Homo sapiens: one gene and its partners. The protein of the gene in region 2 interacts with the protein of the main gene of each other region in a biochemical or structural test. Each region holds a gene or a part of one and is shown on either strand. Other genes may lie near its edges. The genes, in order: FGF2, PRMT1, STAT1 and UBAP2L.

What was found.
Region 1: of the proteins of PRMT1 (region 2) and FGF2, one has a biochemical effect on the other in vitro, tested with the Homo sapiens proteins (one study listed by BioGRID).
Region 3: of the proteins of PRMT1 (region 2) and STAT1, one has a biochemical effect on the other in vitro, tested with the Homo sapiens proteins (one study listed by BioGRID).
Region 4: of the proteins of PRMT1 (region 2) and UBAP2L, one has a biochemical effect on the other in vitro, tested with the Homo sapiens proteins (2 studies listed by BioGRID, with this or other methods).

The regions. Positions count from the first base shown.
Region 1 is NC_000004.12:122,885,649-122,893,200, reverse strand, and holds part of FGF2 (fibroblast growth factor 2 isoform 18 kDa), read right to left. Parts: intron 991-7,552; coding exon 805-990; 3' UTR 374-804; coding exon of another isoform or gene 1-373. Other genes in the region: NUDT6 (nucleoside diphosphate-linked moiety X motif 6), read left to right, coding at 1-373. UniProt on the Homo sapiens protein: Acts as a ligand for FGFR1, FGFR2, FGFR3 and FGFR4. Also acts as an integrin ligand which is required for FGF2 signaling. Binds to integrin ITGAV:ITGB3.
Region 2 is NC_000019.10:49,672,372-49,680,270, forward strand, and holds the start of PRMT1 (protein arginine N-methyltransferase 1), read left to right. Parts: upstream 1-4,899; 5' UTR 4,900-4,909; coding exon 4,910-4,945; intron 4,946-7,498; exon of another isoform or gene 7,499-7,500; coding exon 7,501-7,554; exon of another isoform or gene 7,555-7,558; intron 7,559-7,768; exon of another isoform or gene 7,769-7,864; coding exon of another isoform or gene 7,865-7,882; intron 7,883-7,899. Other genes in the region: BCL2L12 (bcl-2-like protein 12), read left to right, coding at 1,327-1,377. UniProt on the Homo sapiens protein: Arginine methyltransferase that methylates (mono and asymmetric dimethylation) the guanidino nitrogens of arginyl residues present in proteins such as ESR1, histone H2, H3 and H4, FMR1, ILF3, HNRNPA1, HNRNPD, NFATC2IP, SUPT5H, TAF15, EWS, HABP4, SERBP1, RBM15, FOXO1, CHTOP, MAP3K5/ASK1, MICU1 and NPRL2.
Region 3 is NC_000002.12:190,996,983-191,004,534, reverse strand, and holds part of STAT1 (signal transducer and activator of transcription 1-alpha/beta), read left to right. Parts: intron 1-3,371; coding exon 3,372-3,461; intron 3,462-4,830; coding exon 4,831-4,909; intron 4,910-6,226; coding exon 6,227-6,318; intron 6,319-6,527; coding exon 6,528-6,679; intron 6,680-7,552. UniProt on the Homo sapiens protein: Signal transducer and transcription activator that mediates cellular responses to interferons (IFNs), cytokine KITLG/SCF and other cytokines and other growth factors.
Region 4 is NC_000001.11:154,216,591-154,224,165, forward strand, and holds the start of UBAP2L (ubiquitin-associated protein 2-like), read left to right. Parts: upstream 1-4,364; 5' UTR 4,365-4,385; exon of another isoform or gene 4,386-4,450; intron 4,451-4,713; exon of another isoform or gene 4,714-4,806; intron 4,807-7,575. Other genes in the region: LTAP1 (protein C1orf43), read right to left, coding at 3,246-3,347, 3,752-3,817. UniProt on the Homo sapiens protein: Recruits the ubiquitination machinery to RNA polymerase II for polyubiquitination, removal and degradation, when the transcription-coupled nucleotide excision repair (TC-NER) machinery fails to resolve DNA damage.

The DNA of each region.
Region 1 (7,552 bases), on a different chromosome or scaffold from region 2:
TGAAGAGACTGGTATAAAATCAGAATTCAGGTCCGTCCTGAGTATTCGGCAACAGCACACAAATCCTGGAGCTTTTGGGAAGTCAGATATGTATATCATCTGCCGCCTAAAGCCATATTCATTCACCATAAATTTTTGCCAGGAAGAATGCTTAAGATGTGAGTGGATGGATCTCAATGACCTGGCGAAGACTGAAAATACAACTCCCATCACCAGCAGAGTTGCTAGGCTGCTGCTGTATGGGTACAGAGAAGGGTTTGACAAAATTGACCTGACTGTGGAAGAACTTCCAGCAGTTTACACAGGACTGTTTTATAAACTCTATCATAAGGAACTGCCAGAGAATTATAAAACTATGAAAGGAATTGATTAAATTCACATTTATATGTTTAGAAACATGTAGACTAACGAATGACATAAGAAATAGTGGACATTTTGGATTGATTAAACATCTGACTGTGATTTTCTAATGTATATGATTTCCATGAAGAAATTTTGTTTCTAAACATGCACATTTTAAAAGCCTCTTTTCGAATAAAGCAAATGCGTGAAAAAGATCATTGCTCTAGGTAAGCTTCACTGGGTAACAGCAGATGCAATATAAAAGGGAGAATATACATTTTACAACTTTTGTTATTTTTCTTTACTGGGACAATGGTTACATATTTTACTACTGGATAAAAAATTGTTTGACCAATTATCCAAACTGAGCTATACACATTTATTTTCTTTTACTCTCATTAACAAATTTCTAAAATATACTTCTTCTTTCATGTGAAATGAGATTAGATGTGGCCATTAAAATCAGCTCTTAGCAGACATTGGAAGAAAAAGTATAGCTTTCTGCCCAGGTCCTGTTTTGGATCCAAGTTTATACTGCCCAGTTCGTTTCAGTGCCACATACCAACTGGTGTATTTCCTTGACCGGTAAGTATTGTAGTTATTAGATTCCAATCGTTCAAAAAAGAAACACTCATCCGTAACACATTTCTGAAAAATAAAGGAAGAATTACCTGTTATTATTATCATTATTATTATTACACTTTTCATATTAAATATTTATGATAGTATAATGCCTATTCTGCTCAACCAGCAGCAGTGATGTTGGGTTCAGCAGGGCAATCAAACTAACAAGATTCAATGGGCCAAAATGTGACACAGACTAGTTCTGAAGAAGGATGCAGGCCAGGAACACAGCATGTCAGCAGGACAGCATCAAGTATGTCTCTTCAGTAGGAGTTCAGAGACAATTCTCCAGCTCCAAAACAGACAGGTCAGGTGTTAAACACAAGGAGGGACATACCCAGTAAGAAGAAATATGCTATGGGAAGCCCAAAGCTATAGCTCCCAGCAGTATTTATGATCCATCCACACTCTTCCCAGTCCCAAGGTAGGTTACCAATCAGGGATCATTTTTACTTTTATCAGAAGCAGCAGTAGAAGGCTAACCCATTGTAATCTTTCCATACAGAAGGAGGTTTGTTAATACTTTACTCACAAGAAGAGTTAATTCCCCAAATTTTAACAAAAAGTTTTAAGTGGCTAATGTTTTTTAAGGCATAATAATGAATAGTTTATTGTACAGAAAATAGCTATTGGTATATAATGCCAAAAATAATATTGGAACATTATATTACATATGATTAACAATCTCCAAACACTGTTAGACAATGAGGAATAAGTAAGTATCATACTGATTTCTGGCAGTCTCTTTCAGGAGGGAGGGACTTTGCCTTTTAATTTCAATTCAACTATTTATCAAAAAAAAAAAAAAAAGGATAGCTGGCTTTCAAAAAGACCTGGAAATAATACTCCAAGTAATGGAATTTAATAGCTACCACATTATTTAAGATAAATGTTCGGCCGGGCGCGGTGGCTCACGCCTGTAATCCTAGCACTTTGGGAGGCCGAGACGGGCGGATCACGAGGTCAGGAGATCGAGACCATCTTGGCTAACACGGTGAAACCCCGTTTCTACTAAAAATACAAAAAATTAGCCGGGCGTGTTGGCGGGCGCCTGTAGTCCCAGCTACTTGGGAGGCTGAGGCAGGAGAATGGCATGAACCTGGGAGGCGGAGCTTGCAGTGAGCCGAGATCGCGCCACTGCACTCCAACCTGGGAGACACAGCGAGACTCCGTCTCAAAAAAACAAAACAAAACAAAACAAAAAAAAAAAAAAGATAAATTGTTCAAAAAGCAACTTCACAGGGTAGCACTGAAGATACTTACTGACCTCAAAGGGGAAAAATTAATTTATTCACTTCAAAAGGAAAAATCATTTTTACATTATAATTATGTGTATATATATCAATCGAATGATAAACTTATATAGAAAACACATGTAAATTTTATCTAAACACATAAATATAAGATGTATACAGAGACATAAATATATGGTTTTGTATTAATACCACATTCCAGTTTATTTCTATATACTCATATCTAGGAAACTTCAGGTTTGGAAAAGCCCACATTAAAAAGACTTGAACCTTTTCCCAGATTCCTTGGTTCTAAGATAAGGCAAACAATGGCACAAACTGTGACAAAAACATAAATTAATTGGCAAAACAAGGAAAAGAGCTGGCATAATAACAAAAATGTAAAGTAAAGCCTGGGAAAGAACTAAAAGTGACTAATGTGTCTCAGCCATCTAAAGTAAGGGTGTGGTATTAGATCCTGTAATCTTCTAGAGATAAGAATTTTACTGGATATTTACTTGGTTTTAATATTTTGACCACTGTTAAATGGATTTTTAAAAACTGAAATACAAACTTAACTAATTTGCCTATTATGTAATACGTTACTCATAAAGAAACTCAATTCTTCATGATGCAAATAAATCACAGCCTTACAGAGAAGCACACATTGACAGGACCCAGCTATATGAAACACAGGACTGTCTTGTGCTGTTCATAAAGATTCAAATGTGATAAGAGTGAAACACCTAAACTTAGAGTAATATAGACCAATATATTCCAAATCCAATACTTTTACTCTACCTCTAGTGAAATTTAGTACCCCTCTCGTGTGAACTGAAGTTAACCTGTTACTTTATTCTGTCATCTTCATTGCCACTGATAAAAGAAAAAAAAATCTTCCCTTTTCTCTATTCCAGGTTTATGATCAAGAATAGAAGCAGAAGGGAAACAAAGAGTGAAAGGAAAATTCATAGTAACCATAAAGACAACATGAAAGGTCACCATGGAACTTCATAGACTGATTCCCCAGAGGTAAATTTAAACAACAGCATTTAGTCATATGTTCATTTGTTGGTGTTCTATCAGCTTCCCGGATGCCCCACCTTGCTAGCTGGCACTCCCTACAATGCTTGGCATACTAGAATACTAACTATTCCAATAACATTTGCCTTTTCAGCCAGTTCCTAATATTTCAGAGAAAAGAAACAGTACCAGGGACTAAGTGGATACATGATAGAACCCACAGCTTATTAATTAATTAATTTACTTATTTATTTATTACAAAAGTTATTTCTACTTTTGAAAAAAAACAGTGGAGGGAAGGAAACTTACATCTGTGCTGAATGTTCAGCAATGCAAATTTACTAAACAACTGTTTTGCTCTTGAAAACAAACTGCATTTTTTTAAAAAAATGAGTAGTAGGGCCAAAATTTAGTGGTCAAGAAAAGTAGATGTCTAACAGAGCAACATATGTACAATTTTCAATTGTCTCCATTCTGAGTTTCCAAGTCATCTTCAGTGACTGTGATCTCAGTGTGCCTATTAAAAACTGGTGCATTATAATTTTATTAATCTTTATAAACATATTTAAAGAACTGTTTTCCTATTATCAGTGTTTGCTCACCATTTCAAACTTCGGATAAAAAGGGGTCTTCAGAGGAATGCCACCACAAAGAAAGTGGCTTCTAAGGGCTTATAACAACTTGTACCTTGTTTCCAAAGCCTTATTTTATATAGGCCTAAGAGCTGAGAAATCCCTTAATGCATGATTATTGACTGCTTTTATGCATATACTTTAAAAGTCACAACAATATTTTAACATTATTATACTCATTAACAAATGAGGAATTTAAAACTCAGTGCTTTTGGTAACATTTCAGATTTTGGATACCTTTTGCCCTTACATCTACTTGATACCTTTATATCAAATTAAGTTTTTGTTTATGTGTTGCTTTTTTAAAATTGAAGAATAATTTAGAGGTACAGGAAGCATAGAGTTTAAATAATACACTTACTCATTCAATCTATATATTTTTTTCTTCTAGGCATCTAAGACACATCAATGAACAAAACTGAACAAGATCCCTGCCTTTATGCCACTCAAATTCTAGCTGGGGGAGACACACAATAAGCAATAAGCTTAAGTGAATAAATTATATTCTATGTTAGAATATAAGAAAACTTAGAAAAATGTAAACCTGAACAGGGTAAGAGGGACTAGGAATGGTGAGTGGTAGAAGCTAGGTGCAATATTAAATAGCATGGTCACAGTAGGCTCCATTGAGAAAGTGACATTTGAGCAAATGCTTGAAGGAGATGAAGGCGTTAACCATCCAGCTATCAGAGAAGAGCATTCCCATCAGAGGAAAAGCCAGTGCAAAAGCCTTACAACAGGATCATATCCAGAGTATTTGAGGGGTAGCAAGTAGGCCAATGTGGGAAGAGTAGCAGGAAATGAGATCAGAGAGGTAATGGGATGGGAGAGGGGGCAGACCTCATAGTTTTGTAGGCTATTGTAAATATTTGGCTCTTATTCTAAGAAAATGGAGAGCCACTGGAGTCTTTTCAGCAGAAAAATAACATGATCTGACATCTTTTTGTAGGATTATTCTCGCTGCCAAGACTACAGAGGGCCAAAAGCAGACTTAGACCAGTTAAAGGGTTATTCAGTAATACAGGCAGAGAGAATGAAGGTTCAGATCATGGAGGTAGCAGTAGAAATGGTAAGGAGGTGTCTGCTTTTGTACATATTTTGAAGGTAGACTTAATAGGGTTTCCTGATGGATTGGTTGCATGGTATGAGAAAAACAGGGGAATTAAGAATGGCACTGAAGTTTCTGTTCTAGAATGATAAACTTGCCATCAAATGCGGTGGGGAGGGCTATGAGTAGGAACAGATTTTATAGGAAAAGGTTAATAATTCAGTTTTGTATGTGTTGAGTTTGAGAGGAATATCAGACATCCAAATGGAGACAGTATTTACTGAGCACCTACTATGCAACAGACACATCATTTAACTTTTTTCCTTCTTTTTTGCTAATGCTAATAACCACAGAACTAGAAATTAAAAAGTACTAATTTATTTGGAATACCAGGAAGTGTGTTATATACAATAATGCCAGTAAACAAGTATTCTCAGGTCTAAAAGGTATAAACCTAAAAAAGAAATGTAGATGTATACATATGATAGTGATATAAATTTGTCATGTGTTAGTGATGGGGCAACACCTCAAGGTTCCCCTGGAGGCTGTCCACATAAACCAGCTTAGTTTATGGTTCTATAAGAGGGGCCCAATAACCATTTATTGATATTGATAATGATGCTAATAATGTTAAAGATAGTGCTGGCAGTTTGACCCCTTGTAGGGAGTATTTGAATAGAGCAGACTCTAATGTAGCATGAAAAAGCATAATCAACACTTTTAAAAGTTTGTTTTTTGTCTGGATAGTTAATTTACTTTGGAATTTCAAAAAGAAAATAAGGTTATGTGAGATATTTCTACATAATGAAAAACTGATCCCAGGAGATGGCGGGAGCCATGTTTCTCACTGTTGGGGGTGGCAGGTTACACACAAGCAAGTGGGGGGGACTGCTAAAATATTCATTTGTTATTGATGGATTAAGGTTGGAGATATCAGTATGAATGAACTCATATTTAGATGTTTTTGTTTTGTTTTGTTTTGTTTTGAGACAGAGTCTCCCTCTGTCACCCAGGCTGGAGTGCAGTGGCACGATCTAGGCTCACTGCAACCTCTGCCTCCCAGGTTGAAGTGATTCTCCTGCCTCAGCCTCCTGAGTAGCTGGGATTACAGGTGCGCACCACCACACCTGGCTAATTTTTGTATTTTTAGTAAAGACAGGGTTTCACCATGTTGGTCAGGCTGGTCTCGAACTCCTGACGTCGTGGTCCACCCGCCTCAGCCTCCCAAAGTGCTGGGATTACAGATGTGAGCCACCATGCTCTGCCTCATATTAATATTGATACAGATGGCCAAATATAGAAATATTTATAAATACATGTATATACCCAGGCTAGTATGTACCACCATTTCTTGCTCTGTCAGCTTAAGCTTAGAGGGCTTAGAAGCAAAGATACTTCAGTAGCAACAAGCACACCCAGCATTCCAGTTTGTGGTTTCTAATACCATTCTCTAATAAAAGAAACCAATGCTCTTTGGAGAAATGGCTCATTCTAGGGTGGAGTAGGGAATATACAAAATGAGCCTGGAGCATCTTGTAGGCCAAAAAGTAATGAAGTACTTAAAATAAATGCATTGTTGAGAGTATGTCAAAGAGGAGGGCACAGGAGCCAACTGAAAGAGCTCCCAATGGCCAAAGCTGGAACTATTTGAGCAACAAAATAAATAATGTAGTATTGGATTGTAACTCAAAGTATAAAATAAATATCTGTGAATACATATTGATATAAATGATTGAATAAATAAATAAATGGAGGAAAATGAACACATTTCCCAGGCAAAAGAATGACGATTTATGTAGATACTACCCCTCAAGGAGGTGGAGCATAACCATCATCTCCATCTCTTAAGTGTGGACTATGCATGGTGACTTCCTTCCAAACAGTATAGTATGGAAAGGAAGTGAAAGAGTAACTTTACAGTGGACACAAATACTACCTCAGCCAGGTAAGCAAGGATTATATCATGAGTTATCAGTCATGAAGATAACATATACCATTATATGCCACAAAAATGGTACTTTACTTCTATAGTCTTCCTCTCAAACACTCAAATCCCTATCTGGCCATGAAAAAAACATCAGGTCAGGTGCAATGGCTCACACTTGTCATCCCAGCACTTTGGGAGGCCAAGGCAGGAGGATTCTTGAGCCCAGGAGTTCGAGACCAATTTGGGCAATATAGTGAGACCTCATCTCTACTAAAAATAAAAACAAATTAGTAGAGTATGGTGGCATGCATCTGTAGTCCCACCTACTTGGGAGGCCAAGGTAGGAGGATCGCTTGAGCCCAAGAATTCAAGATTGTGGTGATCTATGATCACACCACTGCCCTCCAGCCTGGGAGACAGAGCAAGAACCTGTCTCAAAAAAAAAAAAAAAAAAAAAAAGGAAAAAAAAAATCAAGCAAGTTGAAGGACATTCTAAAAAATACCTCAACAGTACTCCTCAAACTATCAAAGTAATCAAAAATAAGGAAAGTCTAAGAAACTGTCACAGTCTGGAGGAAACTAAGGAGACATGATGACTAAATATGGTATCCTGGAACAGAAAAAGAATATTAGGAAAAACTAAGGAAACATGAATAAAGTATGGACTTTAGCTAATAATAACATATCAGTATGGGTTCATTAGTTGCGACAGGTGCACCAAACT
Region 2 (7,899 bases):
CAGATGAGAGGAGGAGAGGCGCCGGGCCAGCCAGGACCCTGTGGTCACGGTGAGTGACAACTCGGACTTTGACTCTGGGTAAGCCAAGGTCTCTGAGCAGCGGAGGGACAGGCGCTGATTTAGGCGCTAATGGGCGCCCTCTGGCGGCTGCCTGGGGACAGACTGCTGGGGGCGAGGGCAGAAGTAGGGGCACAGGGAGGAGGTGAGTGGATCTCACCCAAGTCGGGGGCGGTGGAGAATGCTGGATTTAACTTAGCGGTGAAGCTGACAGATTTGGCTAATGGGCCAGATGTGGGGACAGACTAAAGGATGCTGGCCCGAGCAGCTGCAGGGCGACATCTTAAGTTCCCCGAGATGGGGAAGGTGTGGGGATGGGGGCGATGGGGGTGGGGAGCAGGACTGGAGGTGGTCCGGTCTACAGTAAGATCAGAACTCATAGCACATGTTGAGGGGAATGGATATAAGTGTTGGGCTCAGCAAAGAAGCTCGTTTATTTTATTTTATTTTAATTTTTCAGATGGAGTCTCACTCTATTGCCCAGACTGGAGTGCAGTGGCACGACCTTGGCTCACTGCAACCTCCACCTCCTGGGTTCAAGCGATTCCCTGCCTCAGCCTCCTGAGTAGCTGGGGTTACAGGCGCACACCACCATGTCCGGCTAATTTTGTAGTTTTAGCAGAGACGGGGTTTTGCCCTGTTGGCCAGGCTGGTCTCGAACTCTTGGCCTCAAGTGATCCACCCACCTCGGCCTCCCAAAGTGCTGGAATTACAGGCTGAGCTACCACGCCTGGACAATTTCTTAAAAAATTTTTTTAAAGTAGGATTGATAGCAGATGAGTTTTCTCGGTGGGCCAGGTCCTCTGCTAGGGATTTCAATGGAATGATCCCATTTAAACCCACTACAACCTCATGGGGCTCTTATTGTCCTCGTCTTGTGGGGGCAGAGAGGAAAAGTCCCCAGCATGCAGAGTGTTGGAATCTGGATTTGTACACAAAGCCACGACTCTGAATTGTTCAAATCCCAAGACTCTCTTCCCCATCTCTGACTCTGTCCCCCAACTCTTCACTCTCTCTGGATCTCTGTCTAATCCCACTCCAGTGTCCTGACCCTCCTCGAGCTCAACCTTTCCTCCTCCTGCTAGGACCCTGCCCCCTCATCCCTGTGCCCTTCTGTCTGGGTCTCTGTCCCCTTGTCTGGGTGTCTGTCACCCTCCGCTCTCTGGTTCCTCGCCTTCCCGTCTCTAATCTCACAGGGCTGATGTGGACGCTGCTGTATGGGGGGAACACCTGCCCTGCTCACAGGGCTCTGCCACTTTTCCCTTCCAGGAGGGCATCCTGGCTGTTTCACCCGTGGACTTGAACTTGCCATTGGACTGAGCTCTTTCTCAGAAGCTGCTACAAGATGACACCTCATGTCCCTGCCCTCTTCGTGTGCTTTTCCAAGTCTTCCTATTCCACTCAGGGCTGTGGGGTGGTGGTTGCCCTACCTGTTTTTGCCAAAAATAAATTGTTTAAAACTTTTCTTATTAAAAACGTTACAAAGTATTCAATTGTCTGTTCTTACACTTGGGAACTAAAGTTTTAAGGAGAGGAGATTTGGTTCAGAGATTTCTGTGGCTTACGCAAATTGAGGAAAGAACCAGTTCATTCATTCTAGAAATATTTATTTGCAGCACCTACAAGAGCCTGTCTCCTGGACATGTAACATATTTGAGAGAATACCTGTAAATATTCCAGCAACTTGCATTTTTTTTTCCTATTGCACGATCTGGTTATTCTAGCTAATGCTGTATGATGGTCATGGAGTCTTTCCAGTGAATTCCACAGAAAGGTACAGTCTAACTTCACCTGTGTCTAGGACACCACCCTCTTCTTGTTTTTCTCCTCCCATTGCTCCTTTCAAGTCTCTCTTGCTGGTTTCTCATCTACCTACAGACCAGTGGTTTGTCTCACACACACCCCCCACTCTCCCTTTTTTTTTGGAGATAGGGTCTTGCTCTGTTGCCTATACTTGCACTGTTATATAGATACAGTGGCACTATCATGGCTCACTGCAGCCTCAACCTCCTGGGCTCAAGTGATCCTCCCACTTCAGCCTCTCTAGTAGCTGGAACTAAAGGCATGCGACACGACGCCTAGCTAATTTTTAAAAAAGAATTTTTATGGGAGGCCAAGGCAGGTGGATCACTTGAGGTCAGGAGTTCAAGACCAGCCAGGCCAACATGGTGAAACCCCATCTCTACTAAAAATACAAAAATTAGCCGGGCATGGTGGTGGGTGCCTGTAATCCCAGCTACTTGGGTGGCTGAGGCACGAGACTCGCTTGAACCCGGGAGGCAAGAGGTTGCAGTGAGTTGAGATCACGCCACTGCACTCCAGCCTGGGCAACAGAGCGAGACTCCGTCTCAAAAAAAAAAAAATTGTAGAAATGGGGTCTCCCTTATGTTGCCCAGGCTGGTCTCCACCTCCTGGGCTCAAGTGATCCTCCTACCTTGGCATCCCAAAGTCCTGGGATCACAGGCATGAGTCACTGTGCCTGGGCGGTTTGTCTCCTTTATAGGGCCATATCCCCCTTCACAGAGTAATGTTTGTAAATTAATAAGTGAAATGTACAGGATTACAAACCGAACCAATTACAGTTGATCCTCAGTATTTGTAGATTATTTGCAAATTTGCATCCTTGCTACAATGTATTCATACCCCAAAAATTAAGGCAGTGCTTTTGTGGTGTTTTGGAGGGCAATGCTTATGCACAGAGCTGCAACAAGCTAAAGACCTGATGTGCATATTTGCAGCTGGGCTCCTCTTGCTTCAGCTCAAACACTGGAAACAAATGTCCTTTTCTTGGTTTGTTTAGTGCCATGCTTTTCAATTTTTTTTTTTTTTTTTAAAGTTAGAGTCTCGGTCTGTCGCTCGAGCTGGAGTGCAATGGCTTCATCCTGGCTCACTGCAACCTCCACCTCCTGAGCTCAAGCGATTCTCCTGCCTCAGCCTCCCAAGTAGCTGGGATTACAGGCGTGTGCCACCAGTCCTGGCTAATTTTTTTATTTTTATTTTTATTTATTTTATTATTTTTTGAGATGGAGTCTCGCTGTGTCGCCTAGGCTGGAGTGCAGTGGCACCATCTCAGCTCACTGCAACCTCTGCCTCCCGGGTTCACGTGATTCTCCTGCCTCAGCCTCTGGAGCAGCTGGGACTACAGGCGCCCACCACCACACCCGGCTAATTTTTGTTTTTTTAGTAGAGACGGGGGTTTCACCATATTGGCTAGGCTGGTCTCGAACTCCTGAGCTTGTGATCCGCCCACCTCAGCCTTCCAAAATGCTGGGATTACAGGCGTGAGTCACCGCGCCCGGCCAAATTTTTTTTTTTTTTTTTTTTGAGACAAGAGTCTCGCTCTGTCACCCAGGCTGGAGTGCAGTGGCGCGATCTCAGCTCACTGCAAGCTCCGCCTCCCGGGTTCACGCCATCCTCCTGCCTAAGCCTCCACGCCCGGCTAATTTTTTGTATTTTTAGTAGAGACGGGGGTTTCACCATGTTAGCCAGGATGGTCTCGACCTCCTGACCTTGTGATCCGCCCGCCTCGGTCTCCCAAAATGCTGGGATTACAGGCGTGAGCCACCGCGCCCGGCCGCCTGGCGTAATTTTTGTATTTTTAATAGAAATGGGGGTTTCACCATGTTGCCCAGACTGGTCTCGAACTCCTGATGTCAAGTGATCCGCCTGCCTCCGCCTCCTAAAGTGCTGGAATTACACCCGTGAGCCATCGCGCCCGAACCCTATTGTAAATTTTAAGTCTCAGGCGTTTGCCAGCGGCACGCCAGAGAGTATAGCCTGCGCGGAGGCCCAGAAACCAAAGAGCGAGCTCATTCCGGGATTGGAGAGAAGTGTGAGCAGAGGGAAGTAGAGGGATCGGGGAGAGGAGGGGCAGGACCCACGCATTCGGCCCTTTGCATTCAGCTTCATTCAACTAGGAACTTTTTCTGCAAATCAAGGAAAGCTTCCCGGAGGAAGTGGTGCCTAAGCTGTGCTCTGATTCACGTTTAGAAGCTGACCAGACAAAGAGAGGTGGGCGTTCCTGGCAGGGGGAGGGACTTGGCAAAAACCAAGTGGCTTGAGAGGGGTTGATGGTTTTAAAAAACTTGGAATGATTATGTCAAGGGCTAGGGATTTAATGTGTTGACGACGGACTCCTATTCCTCACTTGCTTCGGGACCCCAGCTATGCCCTTCCTCTCTCTGGGCCTCTCACCGATTCCGTTTTTCCCCCAGGTAATGAGCACAAGCTCCCTTTTTCCTCCAGACTCCCCCCGGGTTGGGAGGATCCACCGAGTGGACGAGGAGTGATAATTCCTTTGAGCCAATCGTTGGTGCCTGAAGCCCCGCCTTCTTCCCTACCCGTGGGCCAATTGCCGTGTTCTCCTTGAGGCCGGCCGCTTGGCGAGGGTGGGCCAAAGGCTGCGTGACGTCGCTTCCGGATAAACCAATGGCAGCGATTAGGAGGCGGGTCGTTTTGGTGATGGACAGGTGTTTCAAGACGCCCCTTTAGCGCGGGGCTCCCCGGGAAGCTTTGAGGCGGTGCTGGGTGTAAAGGGGAGGGCATTCCTGGTGGATTTTGCCCAATCACCAGTCGCGCTTCTTGCAATAGACGGGCAGTTTTCCCCATCCCGGGTCGACTTGAGGGGGCGGGATTCTGGACGCCAGAGTTGGCAAACCCCTGACCTATGATGGACGTATTCTCTAGCCAATTACTAGACGGTATTCTCAGACGGGCCGCCTCCATTGCCAATGAAATCTTCCAGCGGGGTCGCGGTAGGCGGGCCGTGGACCCTCTGGTATAAGGCGGTCCCGGGGGAGTGAGGAGAAAGGGGGGGTCTTGGCGGCCGGAGGAGGAGTAGGTGCGGGTGAAGATGGCGGCAGCCGAGGCCGCGAACTGCATCATGGAGGTGAGCGCTTGGAGCGCCGCCGTGGGCGGGAGGCGGCTTTGGGTCGGTGTTTCACGCCTCTGTGGTGGGGAAAGGGCTCTAAGTTGGCGATATGGGGTTGGAGGTCCCCCGCCGCACACGGGGGCGCCGCACGTTCCACATCCGGGGATATCGTTTGAGGTGACGGCTCCCTAGCTTCCAAGGGCCTTCGGCATCCGGCCTAGCGGAGGGTCTTATCCCCCCTCCCACGTGGAGGAGGGCTGGGGGCGCTTCCGGCCAGGCCCCCACGTGGCCGCTGCGCGGTGGGTGGGGAGGGGGTGTGCCGAGTCCAGTGGCCCGGCGGGCTCCACGTGCGGGACAAAGGCCCCGCCCCCGGCCGGGGAGGGGCGCCCAGGGGGGCGGGGAGGGGGTCCGACCCTCCTGACGCCCCCAGCCCTCCTCCCCGGGGACCTGGGCACACGCCGTGGGGTGTGATCGACCTGGGGCCCTCCACGATGTGGGGAGTCTCTTGGGAGGAGCAGTGCTTCTCAGCCCTTTACCAACCTCCTTCCGAGCTCCGGGGGCATCTGTTGGGATATCGGACCCGGTTTTGTGCGTTCTGGGTTAGGGACTGGAGGAAAACCAAGAATGGGGTCCCCCGCCGACCCCGTTTCCCCTCCCAGAATTCTCCCCCTCGCCCAGGGCTTTAGGAGTTGGGGGATGGGGCATGCCCCTGTGACCTCCCTCTGGGTGGTGGTGGGGCATCTAGATAGAGATTTTCCCATTAATAGGCGCCGTGCACCCCCTTGTGGCCATTTCTGGGTGTGTGGGAGGGACATCTTTTTCATGGGGCGTGTCCTGAAGCCCACCTCCCCTCGGATTTCTTCCTGGCGGGCGGAGGGAGGAGGGTATGTCCGCTGGGAAGGAGTTGTGGGAAATATGTAGGCTGAGAGCTTTACCCTACTGGAGCCGTTTATCTCCCCCGGGTCTTTGTGAGGGTGCGAGATGACCTCCTTCTTCCTGAAGCCCTGTGCAGGGTCCTGAGCCCTGGGGTCCTGAGAGTGGGTGCCTGAAATGGTTTCGAGTGAGGTTTGGTTCTCGTGCAGCCATGTGGGGGAGGTTTCAGTCTTGCGTTTCAAGCCCTCTGGGGCTGGGGTTGTCTGGCGGTAGTTTTCAGTGGTATTGAGAAATAGGCCCGAGTGGGAAACCCCCTCAGCACCTTTCTTCTTATAGGCATCCCCGCTAGCTTGGGAGAGCTGGAGGGAGGGTGCTTGGAGCCTAGTAGGTCATGGCCTGTGACGTGGCCCTTCTTGGAGACTTGGATAGTGGTCACATCTGGAAGAGATGTAATCTGATGGGGCCTCTGTCCTTCCACCCCTTACCTATGGCATTGGCTGGAGGGGCAGGTCAGCTCTCAGCTGTCAGGATGCAGCTCCCAGGGGTCACTGTAATGACTTCCCACCCTCTTGGCTGTCTCCTGCACCTGGGGCTCTATGGATGGAGGAAATAACTTTCCCAGAGGTGGCCTCAGGCTTGGCCGCACCTGGAAGTCTTCAGGGCCTGGGATGGGTGTCTGAATGGGGGCGATGGCCTGACTCCCCAAGCCACTTTTTTTTTTTTTTTTTTTGAGACGGAGTCTTACTCTGTCACCCAGGCTGGAGTGCAATGGCTTGATCTCGGCTCATTGCAACCTCCGCCTCCCGGGTTCAAGCGATTCTCCTGCTTCAGCCTCCTGAGTAGCTGGGATTACAGGCACCCGCCACCAGGCCCAGCTAATTTTTGTATTTTTAGTAGAGATAGGGTTTCACCATGTTGGTCAGGCTGGTCTCAAACTCCTGACCTCAGGTGACCCACCTGCCTCGGCCTCCCAAAGTGCCGGGATTGCAGGTGTGAGCCACCGTGCCCCCAAGCCACTTTCTGGAGTCCTCTCATTCTTAGAGGGTCCAGGAGCTGCCCATCTTCCCTGGGACCCTACCTTCGTGGGCAGAGGGTCATAAGGGAGGGGGTTGGTTCCAGCTGGTTTTGTTTGGGGCTCCTGAGTCCAAGGCAGGAGCTGGGGTCTGGGGTACTAGCTCTGGGGAAGTACCCGTGTGCCACACCTCTATTCTGGAATCCTCTCAGACATGAGACTGGTTTGCAGAGGTGGCAGATGCCCTGTGGGCATATCCTGCCAGCCCCGCTCCCTTCTGCTATTCATGGCACCCTAGGATAGGGGTGTGTGTGTCAGGAAGTGTCACCTAATCTGGAGGAGATTAGGTGATGAGAGGGAGCGACAGCTGGCGGTGGTGGGTGCCAATTCCCCTGGCCTGGATGGGGGAGGTGTGTGGTCAGCTGCCTGGCCAGAGAGGGGCAGCGTGGGGGTGGGCCACCATCTCTCCAGCCACAGCTGGGATAGGAGACCCCCCTTTCTTCTCCCCTCACTTTTCCCACCCTTTCTTAAACACCCCACCTCATTACTTGCCCCCTTCGCCACCACTCCCCACCAAGAAGGAGAATTGCTGGAAACCCACCCCCCGGCCAGAGCCCAGGTTCCGCCACCCAGCCCTCCCACAGCCACTCCCAGTAGCTAATCCTTTTTCCCTGTTACTCTCTCCTAGAATTTTGTAGCCACCTTGGCTAATGGGATGAGCCTCCAGCCGCCTCTTGAAGAAGTAAATATCCTTTTGTGAGACCCCTCCCCACCCTGACCTCCACATCAATATATCTTGCCACACATCTGGCCCTTTCTTGAGGTCTAACCATACCCCTCTTGCTTCAAACCAGTTTACCCCAGGCCCCCAGACACTTAGTAGCAACCCCTCCAGGTTCACAGCCCCCGCTGGCCTCCCCCAGTATCGCCGCTACTTCCTTAACTCCACCTCCAACCCCCCTTTGCCCTTCCCTGTGTCTGCCCCCATTTTCCTTCCCCTCCCCTCCCCAGCTGTGGGCTGAGCTAGAGACGGGGTCAGAGAGACTGGAGAGATGGTAGGCGTGGCTGAGGTATCGGGGTGCTCCCC
Region 3 (7,552 bases), on a different chromosome or scaffold from region 2:
AGTTTTCTAATCTGTGGGATGGGATATGAGGGCTTTCTGGCTGGAACTTCTCACACCCATGGAGTGCCTATTCCCTTACTTGGACAACTGCTCACTCCATTGGAAAGGACCCCCTTCCTGAGCAGAAGACTTTTCTTTGCTCTGGGGTCTGGAGTAACCAAGTTCCCATCCAAACAAGGTCTCTAGAGGTACAGTAGTGAAACGAGAAAGTAAGAGTCAATGACAGCCGAAGTCCCTTCCAACTTCAGTGTTTGAAATTCCCGTGGTTTCAGTACTCCTGGTTTCTTAGAAAGTTAAAAAGTTAAGGACTCACTGTGAAAGTGGTATCAGTACTAAAGTGTACAGGAGCAGCCAAGCATCTGCTTAGCAGATGGGGGCAGGGTGGAGGGAAGCAGGGAGGGATGAGTGGAAGGGGTAAGAGAGCACCAAGGGTTTGAGTGACTTGGAGGGACTACTGCCCAAGTTGGAAGCAGGAGATTTCTTAGGCCCTGCCACAGTCACCAGGTTTTTCCACCAAGCATCTCCCAGCAAGTCAGTAGAAAGGGGATGTAGAAGCTGGGGATGTAGCTGCTGTTTTACAGCCATTGTTTATATCCCTGTTCTCTAAACCGAGCCTTGGTCATTTGGGAGGAGGCCTGGGAAGTCAGAATTCTCCAGTGGCCTGGTCCCTCTCTCTAGGTGTAGTGTCCCAGCTGTTACAAAGCCCACAGGACACCGTGCCCACATCCTGCTGGCTTAGAAGTTGTATTAGTCTGTTCTTGCATGGCTATAAAGAAATACCTGAGACTGGGTAATTTATAAGAAAAGAGGTTTAATTGACTTATGGTTCTGCAGGCTGTTACAGGAAGCATGGTGCTGGCATCTGCTCAGTTTCTGGGGAGGCCTCAGGAAACTTACAGTCATAGCAGCAGGTGAAGGGGAAGCACACATATCACATGGCCAGAGCAGGAGGAAGCAGGGGAGAGGTGCTCCACACTTAACCAGATCTTGTGAGAACTCGTGATCACAAGGATAGTACCAAGAGGATGGTGCTAAACTATTCATGAGAAACTGTCCCCGTGATCCAGTCACCTTCCACCAGGCCCCACCTCCAACAATGGGGATTACAATTCATGAGATTTGGGTGGGGACACAGATCCAAACCATGTCAGAATTAGACAACAGCAAAGATTTCCCTGCACAGGCAGAAAGCTGTATGGAACTCCTCAAAGTGACAACTTATTCCAACCGCCCAGAGAAACCCCTTTTGTCACTGAGTGATATGTGGCACCTTGGACTTACAGAGGATACCAGTAACATTCATGTATTTCTAATACACACTTTACAGCTGATACAATTCACATGCTTTGAACTTCTGCTGTTGGAGAATATGTAACATGAAGGAAAACTTCCTATGAAGAGAGAATAACTTTGATGACGTATGCCTGATAAAGATAAAACAAAAAATTATGGACCAATTTTACTTATGAGTATCAATATAAAAGTCCTCAATAAGATATTAGGGATCAGAATTAAATACTACATTAAGAAAGGACATGACCAAATATGATTTATTATAGGTTACAAGGGTAGTCCATGACTGGGCAACCTATTAATGCAATTCACTAAATTAATAGCTACAAGGAGAAAAAAGCATTTACTTCCTTCCACAGAAGCTGAAAAGATCTAACAGAATTCAATACTCATTCCTCATAAAAACATTGAATAAGATAGGAATTGATGGGTACCTCTTTAACACAAAAAAATATATATATCTCCATTCTAGAGACAGTATCTTACCTAACTGGGAAAACTCCAGTAAGTCAGAAACACAGCAAGGATGCTGTGTTTCCACTGCTATTTAGCATCGTATTGGTGGTATTGGCCAATGCAATTAGACAAGAGAAAACCATTAGAAGCATAAGAATTAAAAACAACATCATAAAGATGTTAGCTCTCCCTGAGTTAACTTGTAATTTTAATGTTATTCCAATAAAAATACCAACAAGTTGTTTTCTGGAGCTACACAAATTTGTTCTGAAATTTATGAAAAATAAACATGCAAGAGTAGCGAGGCAACTTCTGAACAAGTAGAGCAATGAAATGGGACTGGCCCTACTAGACAGACTATAAATCCTCTATAGTCAAACATCCTTCAAGGGTTCAGGCTTATGAATAAAAAGGCCAATGGGAAAGAAGAGAAAAATCTAGAAGGAAACCCGTGTGCATATGGAAATTCATGTGATAAAGTTGGCAGCTCAGAGCACTGGGGAAAATAATGGACTTTTCAGTAAATGCTGTTAAGACAAATGGAAAGCTAACTGGAAAAAAAGTGAAAGCAAAAAGTGGACCCATACTTCACTCTGATCATGAGAATAAACAAATATATCAGCGATCTAAAAGTTAAAAAGAAAAAAAGGAAACCTTGCAAGTGCTAGGGAAATGAGTGAATGATGTAATGTCAATAGGGAAAGGCTTTCTAATATAAGGAAAATTCCAGACATGAAGAAAAGATGATACAATTGCACATATAAAAACACCCCCGTAGAATCTGTGCTGTATAGGGCACTGTGTAAGAAAGGTTGACAAGCACAGTTTTTGCTGTGTGGGGGATTTAACTCTAAAAAAATAACATCTTTCTAGAATTTAATCTCTATGAGAACAGGGATCACTGGTTACCACTCTAACACCCGAGCCTAGAGCATTGCCTGACATTTACTTAGTACCTAGTATGTGCAGGGTACATCTGGTGTATGAAGCAAGTAGAGACCCTGTCACTTCTGAGTGTTCTGATTATCAAAAATAGGACTGAATACTCCCAGGCAAGTCTGGGTTTATATTCATTATTGACTTTATAGTAGCAGATTTTCATTGATGGCCTTAATGGAGTGATTTCATATTTCAGTATACCTCTGGATCACCCGGAATTGTGTTAAAATAGGGTTTTCTGATTGCCTAATCATATTAGCCCTTGAGATTTTCCAACAAGATCCTAGGTGGTGAGATGCTGCTGGTCTGAGGACCACACTTTGAATCAGAAAGCTTTAAGATAAATAAGGACTGAGTTAATGAGAGTAATCTTGTGTATAGTATCTGAGAAACCGTGAACTAAATTCCAGCGTGGTACCATGCAACTGTATGAATTAATGGAAACTCCCAGAAATACTGTTTATTTTAGACATGAATTGAGCCTAGTTTTTTTGTAACCTTGTTAACAGTTTGCCAGCATTTTCCAGGGCCTTGGGAAAAATTTCATATTGACACATAAGCAGGAAGCCTGTAGTACATGTCAGAAGATCTGGAAGGCAAGTGGGGACTTGACTTTGGAGTGTAACCAGCAAGTACACACCCTGAAGAAAACGATGGCTATAATCATGCCCTTCCCATTACAGGCTCAGTCGGGGAATATTCAGAGCACAGTGATGTTAGACAAACAGAAAGAGCTTGACAGTAAAGTCAGAAATGTGAAGGACAAGGTTATGGTGAGTATTGAGTAAACACATGCATTTATTCTGAAACTTTCTGTAGGGGAAAAAAGGTTTCAATTGCTTGGGGTGTAAACCTCGTAACTGAGTTCAGTCTTTTAAGTAGTTGGGAAGAAAAATTTTGCAGAAGTCTCAAGCTATAAGTAAACAAATTGGCAAAATCAATGACCAGATAGACTTTTTGAATGGCCTCTTATAACTGCCAAACATTGAGTTTAGCTTTTTCTTCCCTGAAAGATCATGCAGTAAATGTTGACTTTGCCCAGTACCCAGTAAATGAGATGTTGCTGCTCTAAATGGGCCTTTATGTCCACACCTCTCAAATCACAGTGCCCCAGGATAAACATGGCCCATCCTTCCCAGTCATCTGTTTTATCCTAAGACTTGGAAGAGGAACAAAAATACATTTTATTGAAAGAAATTTGGATACATTTCTGATTAAGACATCCACAGCAATTTTAGGATACAACTTCCAAGTCAATTTATGGAAGCAGAGGGCTGCTCTGGCGTCCTCGATGGTGCGCATTTACTCCTCTCCACTGTTAGGGCTGGTGTGGGGAGGGTTTGAGGAGTTCTTTTTCACAGAGGCCTGTGTTTGTGGAAAAGGCCTTCCAGCTTAGGGGTTTGGTCCTCTGTGGATCTCTGGGTAATAGCAGTATGGCCTTGACTTACATGCTTCAGACAGCATCTTTCCAAACTCCACATTCTTTGGAGCAACTTCATCTTGCGGTCTCCTAGGGAAACATTTCATTAAAGTAGAAACCGAGTGAGCCCAGTCCAGAAATAGCCATGGAAATCCAGAGAAGAATATGTGGAAATGTGACCAAATCCCAAACAAATGAGGCTTATTTGTAGAATGAACATACAATTTATTGTCCAGATGGAGATGCATTTGAGCCGCCAAGAGGGCACTGTTTATAATTACAGCAAGTATGAAACCAGGTCTATCCCGGTAAAGCAGGGATGTATGGTCACTTTTCTTACTTGGAAGGAATGAGGAAATTTTCTGTGAGCTTTTTCCCCGCCTGCTGTGGGCTTCACAGTGGAGTTCTTAAATCATATCTCAGAGGTAGTCTCAAAAATGATGAGGAAGAATCAAAATTTAGGCGCTGGAACCAGGTTAAGGACATACAAATCAGTTTGAGAATTATTGTACGTTTGCTTTTTTAAAAATGTTATGACATACTTATTAATGAAACCGAAATTATTTCATGTATATGATTAGAACTGTCCAAGTCAGATCTCTTTTTGGGGGAGATGGAATTGTTTTCGTGTTTCTCTGGGTTCCATAGAAGCAATACTCTGTTGCCTAAAGTCTTTGGAAGTTGCTGATCAGTAGAAAACATGTTTACATCTTTGTTTGTAGTGTATAGAGCATGAAATCAAGAGCCTGGAAGATTTACAAGATGAATATGACTTCAAATGCAAAACCTTGCAGAACAGAGGTAAGGGTTCACAACTGAAGTGGTGCCCGTTGGCTGCAATTTTTTCTGTTCACACTAGATAACGAAGATGATTACTCCTTTCTATTTGCCGAGTATTTTATGACTCTGAATTCTTCCTTGATAACCCAGGCCAGGGCTTCTCAACATCCAATATTATTGACATTTCGGGCTAATTTGTTGTTGGGGCTGTCCTGGCATTGTAGCGTGTTTAACAGCATCCCCGACTTTTACCCACCAGATGCCAGTAGCACTACCCAGGAGCCCTCACTAGTGACAACCAAAACTGTCTCCAGAGATTGCCAAAAGTCCCCTAGGGGTCAGTGACCCCTACTTGATAACCACTGGTTATGTGTTACTCACCATATTTATTGCGCCTAGCCCACTGACTGACACAGAGCGATAGATATGTGGAGTTCCCCTGCCCTAATATCTCAGGTTTCTTCAAACGTTGCAGGGCCACGTGTATACACAGCAGATAAGCTCAGTATTTTTCTCATGTTTTAAAGCAGTTTTACTGTATTTTCTTACTGTTGCGTGTTTTTAATGAGAGTAGCAACAGAAAAGATCTCAAGAATGTACATTGTGTAGGACACGTAGGGTACTGCTGTTACTCTATTCATCATCTGGGGTATACCATGGTTCATAGGCAGAGATTATCAGTATGATTTGGGTAGAAAGTATAAGAGACAGCAACTTCAACTACCACTTCCTACTCATCTACTTCTCTTTGAAAGCTACAGCTATGCTTTGTATACATTTTTTATCTGAATTCTGTTCAGATAAAACATTTTATTATTTACATTTATTTTTATAATAATAATAACATTATTATTAATGTTATTTACATTTATTTAGGTAATTACCTGACAGTGTCTTAAGTGGCAGATACTACTATGTCTGATTTACATGGGTCACTGAAAACAAGTTTTTTTTGTTTTTTTTTTGTTTTTTTTGTTTTTTTTTGGAGACGGAGTCTCGCTCTGTCGCCCAGGCTAGAGTGCAGTGGCGAGATCTCGGCTCACTCCAAGCTCCGCCTCCCGGGTTCATGCTGTTCTCCTGCCTCAGCCTCCCGAGTAGCTGGGACTACAGGCGTCTGCCACTGCGCCCGGCTAATTTTTGAAAACAAGTATTTTGTTTCAGTGTGTCTAGTTGTTATACTTAGGACTTTTTTTCATGTTCATTAAAGATCGAAGAAAGCCAAACTTTGACCTGTCACTAGGCAGCATTTGTGTCATATTTATCCTAAATTTATATGAATCTTGGCTTTTGTTGGTTTTGTCTTCTTTATATATTTACTGGCTGTCTCTCAATTTATAGAACACGAGACCAATGGTGTGGCAAAGAGTGATCAGAAACAAGAACAGCTGTTACTCAAGAAGATGTATTTAATGCTTGACAATAAGAGAAAGGTAGTTATTTACTTTCCAGAATAGCATGCCACTTTTGTTATACACTGTAAATAATGGACTCAAAGTTTAGAAGAGAGGAAAAATTATAGCCACCTGGCTTAGAGCCCCAGTTGAGAATGAAATGATATTTGCTTTTCTTTTAAAAAATATTTTAAAATTCAGTGATTAAAAATGAATTTATTTCACTTTGTTTCTTCTATTGCCTTTAGGAAGTAGTTCACAAAATAATAGAGTTGCTGAATGTCACTGAACTTACCCAGAATGCCCTGATTAATGATGAACTAGTGGAGTGGAAGCGGAGACAGCAGAGCGCCTGTATTGGGGGGCCGCCCAATGCTTGCTTGGATCAGCTGCAGAACTGGTAAGATTCTCCAAAGCAGAAAACTGGCAGCTGACTGGCTAACCACATAAACACATAAATGTACCTTTGAGCTGTGTTAGTTGAATGGACCCTGTCAAAACATTAGTATAGAGTTTGACATAGTCCAGCTTCTGCTTACCCTGGAAACACTCCCTTGGAAAGCACAGTGTTATTCATGACTCTCGCCACGTTCAGCCACGTCTGCTTGGTTTGGAGCACTCCTGTACCATGGGGTGTCGTTTGACTGTACAAAACATCAGTGACATGGTCGTTATAGAACACATTTAATGACTTGACTCTTAATGTTTCCTTAAAAACAAGATAGCTTGAGGCATTTTTCTAGGCTTACAGAATAGTTTTTTAGGAAACATTCAGTCATCCATCCAGTAATACTTATTAAATGCCTACTGTGTGCCGGGCACTGTAGGACCTGGGCACACAAGGATGAGTGATTCTTGGCCCTTGCCAACAAGGAGTTCTCAGTGTGGAGGGGGGGATGTAGACATGGTAATAATTCGTGTGGTAAAAGTATCCAGGTGCTCTAGCAAAAGGCCATCAGAATTCTGTGGAGGACAAAGGAAAGCATCTCCAGGGAAGGTTTCATAGAGGAAGTGGCCTTGTGCTGACTCAAAAGTCACTAGGATTACTCCACGTAGATCAAGGGGAAGTGCTTTCCAGCACAGAGCACAGCGTGTGCAAAGGCACACATGTGGGAGACTGCAGGGGCTGTATTGGGTGGCTGGAGAGTGGGGTGTCCAGGGAGATGGGAAGGAAAGTGGACCCGGTGGGAGATGCTGGAGCCTGATGGTGCAGGTTCTCAGCACCATGCTGGGAATGGGGGATGTACGCAGCTGTACTGCTGAGCCAAGGCAG
Region 4 (7,575 bases), on a different chromosome or scaffold from region 2:
TGCCTGCTGGGTTCAAGCAATTCTCCTTGCCCTCCTGCCTCAGCCTCCCAAGTAGCTGGGACTACAGGCGCATGCCACCATGCCCAGCTAATTTTTTGTATTTTTCGTAGAGATGGGGTCTCACCATGCTCGCCAGGCTGGTCTCAAACTCCTGACCTTGTGATCTTCTCATGTGGGCCTCCCAAAGTGCTGGGATTACAGGCGTGAACCACCGCGCCTGGCCCATTTTTAAACTTTTTATAGAGACAGGGTTTCCCCATATTGCCTACGCTGGTCTCGAACTCCTGAGCTGACGTGATCAGCCTGCCTCGGCCTCCCAAAGTGCTAGGATTACAGGTGTAAACCACCTCGCCTGGCCTTAAATTTTTTTTTTTTTTGATACAGAGACTCACTCTGTCACCCAGGCTGGAGTGCAATGGTGTGATCTCTGCTCACTGCAACCTCCGCCGGGGCTCAAGTGATTCTCCTGCCTCAGCCTCCTGAGTAGCTGGGATTACAGGCACACACCGCCACGCCCAGCTAATTTTTTTGCATTTTTAGTACAGTCGGGGTTTCACCGTGTTGGCCAGGCTGGTCTTGAACTCCTGACCTCAGGTGATCCACCTGCCTCAGCCTCCCAAAGTGCTGGGATTACAGGCGTTAGCCACCGCACCCAGCAAAATTTTTCAAATATACTTTATTGAGGTTGAATTTACATACAATAAATGCATTCATTTTATGTATATAAATTGATGAGTTTGACAAATGAACATACCCCCTTCACCACCACGTCAATCAAAGTAAAGAATATTTTCATCACCTGGAAATCTCCCCTCTCCCAGCCCAGGCAACATGATGTACTCTTTTACAGTTCTGCCTGTTCTAGAATTTCATATAAATGGGGTGGAAGCACATGGTACATATTCTCTTGTGAACGGCATTTTGGCTTTCTTCACTCAGCATGGTTTTTTTGTTTTTGGTGAGACAGAGTCTCGCTCTGTCACCCAGGCTGGAGTGCAGTGGTTTGATCTCAGCTTACTACAACCTCTGCCACCTGGGTTCAAGGGATTCTCCTACCTCAGCGTCCCGAGTAGTTAGGATTTTTTTCTTGTATTTTTAGTAGAGATTGGGTTTCACCATGTTGGCTGGTCTGGTCTCGAACTCCTGACCTCAAGTGTTATCTGCCCAACTCGGCCTCCCTAAGTGCTGGGATTACCGGCATGAGCTACCATGCCCGGCCCACTCAGCATGTTTTTGAGATTCATGTTTGCAATTTTTTTCATTCAGAAGTATTTTGAGGACTTGTCTTCATATATTTATCTTCAGTTTTTCATTTTTTACACTATTCCAGAATATGAATATACCACTACCTATTTTTTAGAAACAAGGTCTTGCTCTTGCCCATGCTGGAGTGCATCAGTGCAATCATAGCTCACTGCAGTCTGTAACTCCTGGGCTCACATGATCTTCTGGCCTCAGCCTCCCAAAGTGCTAGGACTACAGGTATGAGCCACTGCACTCAGCCTATATAATAATTGAAAAGTGGACATTTGAATTAAGTTTCTTCTTCAAATATTATGAACAATGCCCCTATAAATAATCTTGCACATGTTTCTTGGTACACATGAGCAAAACTTAATTTCTCTATGGTAGGAGAGAAACTGTTGGACCATGGATTAGGTACATGTGCAATCTTACCAGACAATGACCAGTTATTTTCCAAAGTGGTTTTACTAATTTATACTTTCACTAGCAATGGTTGAGAATTTAGAAAAAATTTTTAAGCAAAAGGAATATTGCTCTGAACTAGACCAAGGGACCCCTGAATAGCCAAAGTATTGATTGGTTCATGATGTGCTAGAAACTAACCCTATGTCTTTCTCATGAGGCAGGCAGGACTGTTAAGGTTTCAAGCCAGGACATCCTCCTAGAGCCTTTTCATGTACTATGTCAGCAAAGAACAAAGAGGGGAAGGTTAATAGCACTTGTTAATGAAAGTACAGTGCTCTAGGAGTTGAGGGAGTCATGAGCTCTAGCTCTACAACTAACCTGTTTTTCATTCAGCAACAAATTACAGAGTACCTGCTATGTGTAGGCCCTGGCACTAACCTGTTTTTCATTCAACAAGAAATTACTGAGTACCTACTATGTGTAGGTCCTGGCTTTATAGTCGTGAACAAAACTGGCATGGTGCCTGCATTCTTGAAGCTTACGGTCTAGCGGAAGAGAGAGGCATGTTTTAAACAAATGGACAAACATAAAAATTATGGTAAATGCTATGAAGGAAAAATCAGGGTACCATGTGAAAATAAAGAGAGGGGGAACCTACTTTAAAATAGGTAATAAGCATTCCTTTTTTGGAAGTAACATTTAAGCTAAGATCAAAAGAATGAATGAGCTAGCCAATTGAAGACCATTCCAGATCACAGGAGCAAAAAGGGTGGAAAATTCAGCCAGTGGAGCTGGGTCCCAGTGATCTGGGGAGAGCCACACAAAAGGGGGTTGGTAAGGGAAGCAGGTGTCTTTTACTTAGAAGCGAAAGACTAAAGAAGCAGAATGAGAGTGGCAGTGGGATAGCAATAATTCTGATTCACAAATGTTGGGTTTGAGATGTCTACTACAAATCTAAGTGGAAATGTCAGGTAATCAGTTGGCAATATATGTAAGGAACTCAGGAAAGAGTTCTAGGATAGAGATAAAATTTCATCTGTAGCTAAAGCCAAGGAAAGGAAGACAGTCACCTAAGGAGAAAGTACAGACAAAGATAAAAGACCACTGGGTTATTCACTTCCTATACGTCTTCTGGTAAACTGCCTCCTTTTCTTGGGCTTCTTGGTAACATGAATGGTGGAATTAGATGATTTATGGAGCTCCTCTTAAGTCTAAAATTATGTAAAGGTAACCCTTCTCATTGCTCTTGGGTTAACCTTAATGATCTCAACCCCATCCTAATCAAACAAAAAACACTGGGTAGTTTAAGATGAGCTGGGAAATATTTTACTACAAACAGTTGGGAACTTCGACCCAAGCCCTTCATTCTGCAGATACAAAAACAGAAGTTCCAGGATGAGCCACATGCTTGCCACAGCACTGAGCAGGTAAGCCAAGTTCCAAAGCGCACAGTGCCTGCTCAACTTAGTAAGTACAAGGACAAGTGCACGCAAAGAAACATGAGAATTAAAGTCATCACTAAAGGCAGAGGAAATCTCATTCTTGACCCTAAAAGATCTGGAGAAGTATGTTTAACTTGTGCCCTAAGGACCTACCTTGGGGGCATTGTGTCCCACAGGGACATGAGGTCCCCTTCGAGATTTCATTGCAAAGCGCATGATTTGCCTCTTCACAAAAATAAATAGCAGTACAAACACCTGTCCAAAAAGATGTAAAAATCCTTTAATAAAAAGTCAGTTTTGTTTTGTTTTTTTTTTAAAAAAGCATGCCTTCATTCCAAATCCCCAGATTCCGGCTCTCAGGAATGTTTCAGGGTAAAACTTGGGGCAAAGCAAGGCCGTTATGATGGGGGTGGATCTAAGAAGCCAGCAGCAGGGAGGCGTGGGGTCTGTGCTCTAGCGTTAAAGGGAGGGTTCTAGACTAACGAGGGCGGGTCGGCCCGACTAAGTGACTTAAACTCCCACCTACTCCTGGAATAAGGAGTCAAAGCCCGGATAGGCGCAGGTGAGTGGGTGGAGAATGCAGACGGGGTACAGCTCAAAAGGAGGGTCTCTACTGGGTAAGATGCGACAGCAGGAATGGGGTGGGGTAATCTCCTCACCAGGCTCCCGTAGGCCATCACCAGCACGACATTCACCCCGGAGAGCCAGTTACTGCCGGACGCCATGGCCTCCCTACCTCGCGCAGAATTGTTCGGGTTTACCCCGCTGTCCTGGCTGGTCAGCCCAGGCTCCGCCGAAGCGACGGCGCCTGGGTCCCCTGGAGCTCCCCGGCCATTTCCTTACGGGGGAAGACCAAGCCAGACCCGGCCTGAAAACATGGCGGACAGGCAGGAGAGCTGGGAAAGGAGAACGACGCCTTCCAGCTTCCCCCTGACACGTGACTCAGGCAGGCAATGGCACCCAGGAGCGTCGAGCGCTCAGACGCGGAACTACGACAGTAAGAGGAAGCGGCGGCCATCCGTGCGTCACGTGGTGGAGGCAGGGCCGCCGTGAAGGAGGCGGGGTGGACTCGCGGAGCCGGAAAGAGGTGTCTCGTGGCGAGGCGGCACGCGCACGCTTGCGTGCGCGCCCCTTTTAGCGTCACGCGCTGAGGGACGCAGGAAGGCAAGTGGGCGGGGGAAGGCGCGAGAGCGAGCGCGAGAGGGAAAAGGAGGGAGGGGGTGGGGAAGAGGGAATCTTATATCACGTGACAGGGGCGGCGCGGCCCGGGGTGTCAGTGTGGAGGAGACTGAGGTAAAGTTGGGAGCGCAGCGGCGTTGGCGGCGGCGGCGGCGGCAGCGGCAGCGCGGCGGGGCCGGGTATTGTCCGCGGCCCCTTTAAATCCGCGATCCCCCTTTTACCCTCCCTCTTTTCTCCCCTGCCCCCGCCGTATCCCCTCCCTCGGTAGGCCCCCCCACACCGTGTGTTCCCCCACTGTACACCCCCCCCCGAGTCATGCGAGCCCTGGCGCCCCCCACCTCGAGTCGGCCCCCGGAGGTTTTGTTTATGGTTGGGTTCGCGGCCTAGTGGGCCGCGCCAGAGCCGGGGCCTCGATTTGGGAGCGTGGCCGGGGCGGGGCTTGGAGCAGCCGTAGGAAGGGGGGGCCATGCGGCTAGAGCCTGAGAGGGGAGAGCGAGAAAGAGCGCGAGCGAGCGAGGCCTGGGCCTTGCCTGAGGTAGGGCTCTCTCTTCACCCCGGCCGGTGCCTGCGGAGGAGAGGGCCTCCTCCCTTTCCACCCACTGCGGGCCTCCTCTGATCCGGATCCGGCCTGGTTTGGGGGTGGCGTGGGGGAGGGAGGGCGATGGGGTGGAGCTCCCCCAAACTCCCCCATGTGGCCCTCAGTTTGGTGTGCGAAGGATTAATTTGTTCCGGCTGGGAGGTAGGGAGGAGATTGGCCCCGTGGGCTCTCGATGTGGCGCTGAGGGGGGTGAGCCTCCCATCCTCCACCCGTGGGCTTGCGTCCCCTCTCCGTTTCCAGGCTCTTTGTCAGCTCCTCTTATTACCCTCCCTTCTTTCTCACCAACCCAGTTCTTGGAATATGTTTTTGCTGCTGTCTTTAGCTTCCTGTTTATACTGTAGTTTGGGTACCCCAAACAATTGTGTTATTTGGGAAGCTGGACATGGAGGCCCCCATAGGGTGTATTTACGCTTAAGGGACGTCACTAGAGCACTGGGGTATTTGTTCACTCTTCTCATAATGGTACAGGAATGCCCAGTTTCTTCAAACCCTTAACCTTGTGGACAGCCCTTAAATTGCTTTGCAAACTGATGTCACAAACTGGAGACTGCTCCTTTTCCACCATTCTTGAAATGTAGCCACCTCTGGTGTAGGATGTTGTGGAAAGAAAAACACCACAGTAACAGGCGTTTTTGTTATTATTGTTAACGTTTTTGCCTTTGACTCTCCCTGATTATTAAATGGAGAAATCCTTTTTTTTTGTCTTCTCTCCCATCCTACCTTCCTCCGCCGCATATCCTGTTTTGGGGATACCTGATGTGACTTGCTGGGAGGTGATGGACATTACTAGTAACCAGCGTTTCTAGAGAATTAAAACATTTTGGCTGTGTATCAGTTGATAAAACTGCTTTGAGATCTGTCTCCATTGTACTTAAAGATTAGACTATCCCAATGATTACAGAGAATTAAAACATTTTGGCTGTGTATCAGTTGATAAAACTGCTTTGAGATCTGACACCATTGTCCTTAAAGATTAGACTATCTCAATGATTGTTTCCTTTGTGAATGGGAAATATTGCTGGCACATAAACTAGTGATGAAAGGCCTAAAAATGTCCTGTTTTGTTTTTCATCTTTAAAGCTCCTCCTTGCTATGTCCTAACTGGGAAGTACTCTTACTAACTAGATATCAAGGTGGTGGGGAAGGGGATGCAGGGGCCATTTCAACAAAGCATCTACAGAAATTAGTTGTTCTGTTAGAGGTAGCAAATTTTACCCAACTCAGTCTAGCTTCAGTTTCTGAATTGTTTCTTAAATTAGATTGTAAGCTCCCTGAGGGCAGCTACTAAGTCATACTGCTTTTGTATTTTCCTGAAGTATTGGACACATAGTAGATTCTCAATAAATATTTGTTATTTAGTTTTTTCAGTGAAATTTCTCTGGCTATTTTTTTAAGTAGCTAGTTTTCAAAAAAGAGTCAAGGGCACTCCTGTGTTGAAACCTCTGTTTACTCTCGCACGATTTCCTTGGTCTCCAATACTTCTCACCCTACTTCCTTTAAATCTTTTTATTTTCTAAGAAAGAGCAAGTAAGTAACAAGATTCTTCATCTCCAGTGTGATAGCTGGGAATGGGTCTGCTTGCTACTAATTCTGTGCCCTCAAGTGATCCATTCCAGATCACTTACTTTTGACCTGTTGCTCAGTGTTGTCACTACTAGGTGGTAAAAATTTTCTTAGTCACATTTCGAAGCACTTGTAAGAGGGAAATGTTACTAGCAAGAGTGATTAGGAGAATTTTTTTCTTTCTTGGTTAATTATATCTTTCAAGATGACTTTTTAATATGTTTACATCTGACTGGTACAGTATATGCAATAGTGTATAGCTAGTCATGCAGTTTATACCTGCAATATAACTTATCCTCACAAATAGATATCACATGTGGAGTAGAAAACAGTCAATATTTGTAAGTTACAGTAGTGGGTTGGAAATGACTATGCCATATTAGAAACTTCATCTTAGAGCCAATTTTAAAACAAAATAGTTTTCCTCTCGTCTTTATATATATACGTATATATGTGTATATGTAGTCTTGTTGATTTGGATTCGGGGTACTTGGTTAAACATTTTTTTTTTTTGTAAAGTTGAAACGACTATAATGCTAACCTGGGAAAATGGGCTACTGTGTAGCAAATAATCCTTTCTAGCTTGAAATACTTATGGGCTTTTGTGTGCCAATATGTGTAGGGGGAAGAGGTAATGGGTTAAAAATTACCTGAGAAGCTACCTTAAAAAAATCTTTCTTGATACAAAGACCTATGCAACCTATTGACGCAACTTGGTGAAGAATTTATGCACAGAAAAAGTCAGCTTTCTCTGTGACATCCAAGAAAGTCAGATGAAATTCACTTCCCTAATAGTTAATCCTTGCATATTTCTTTAGAAGTCCTTCCTCCCACTCAAATCCAGTAATATCTCTGGGCAGTCTAGAATTACGTTGTATAAGGTTTCATTAACAAGAAAAATTAAATATAGAGCAGAAAAGTATAAACTTACCCTCTTTGGAAGGGAATAAATGCAGAGTAACCTATTATTTTGAACACTCTATCATATGATTAATGTTTTCTTTTTTACTAAATGCAGCAGCTGAGATTGTATTATAAAACAAAGTATGAACTAAAGGAACTTGAATTCAGTAGAATCCTTCCTTGTTAGAAGTCTTGTAACAAAAACTATATTCTGGTTTGGGGAAGGCCCTGTGTGTTCTG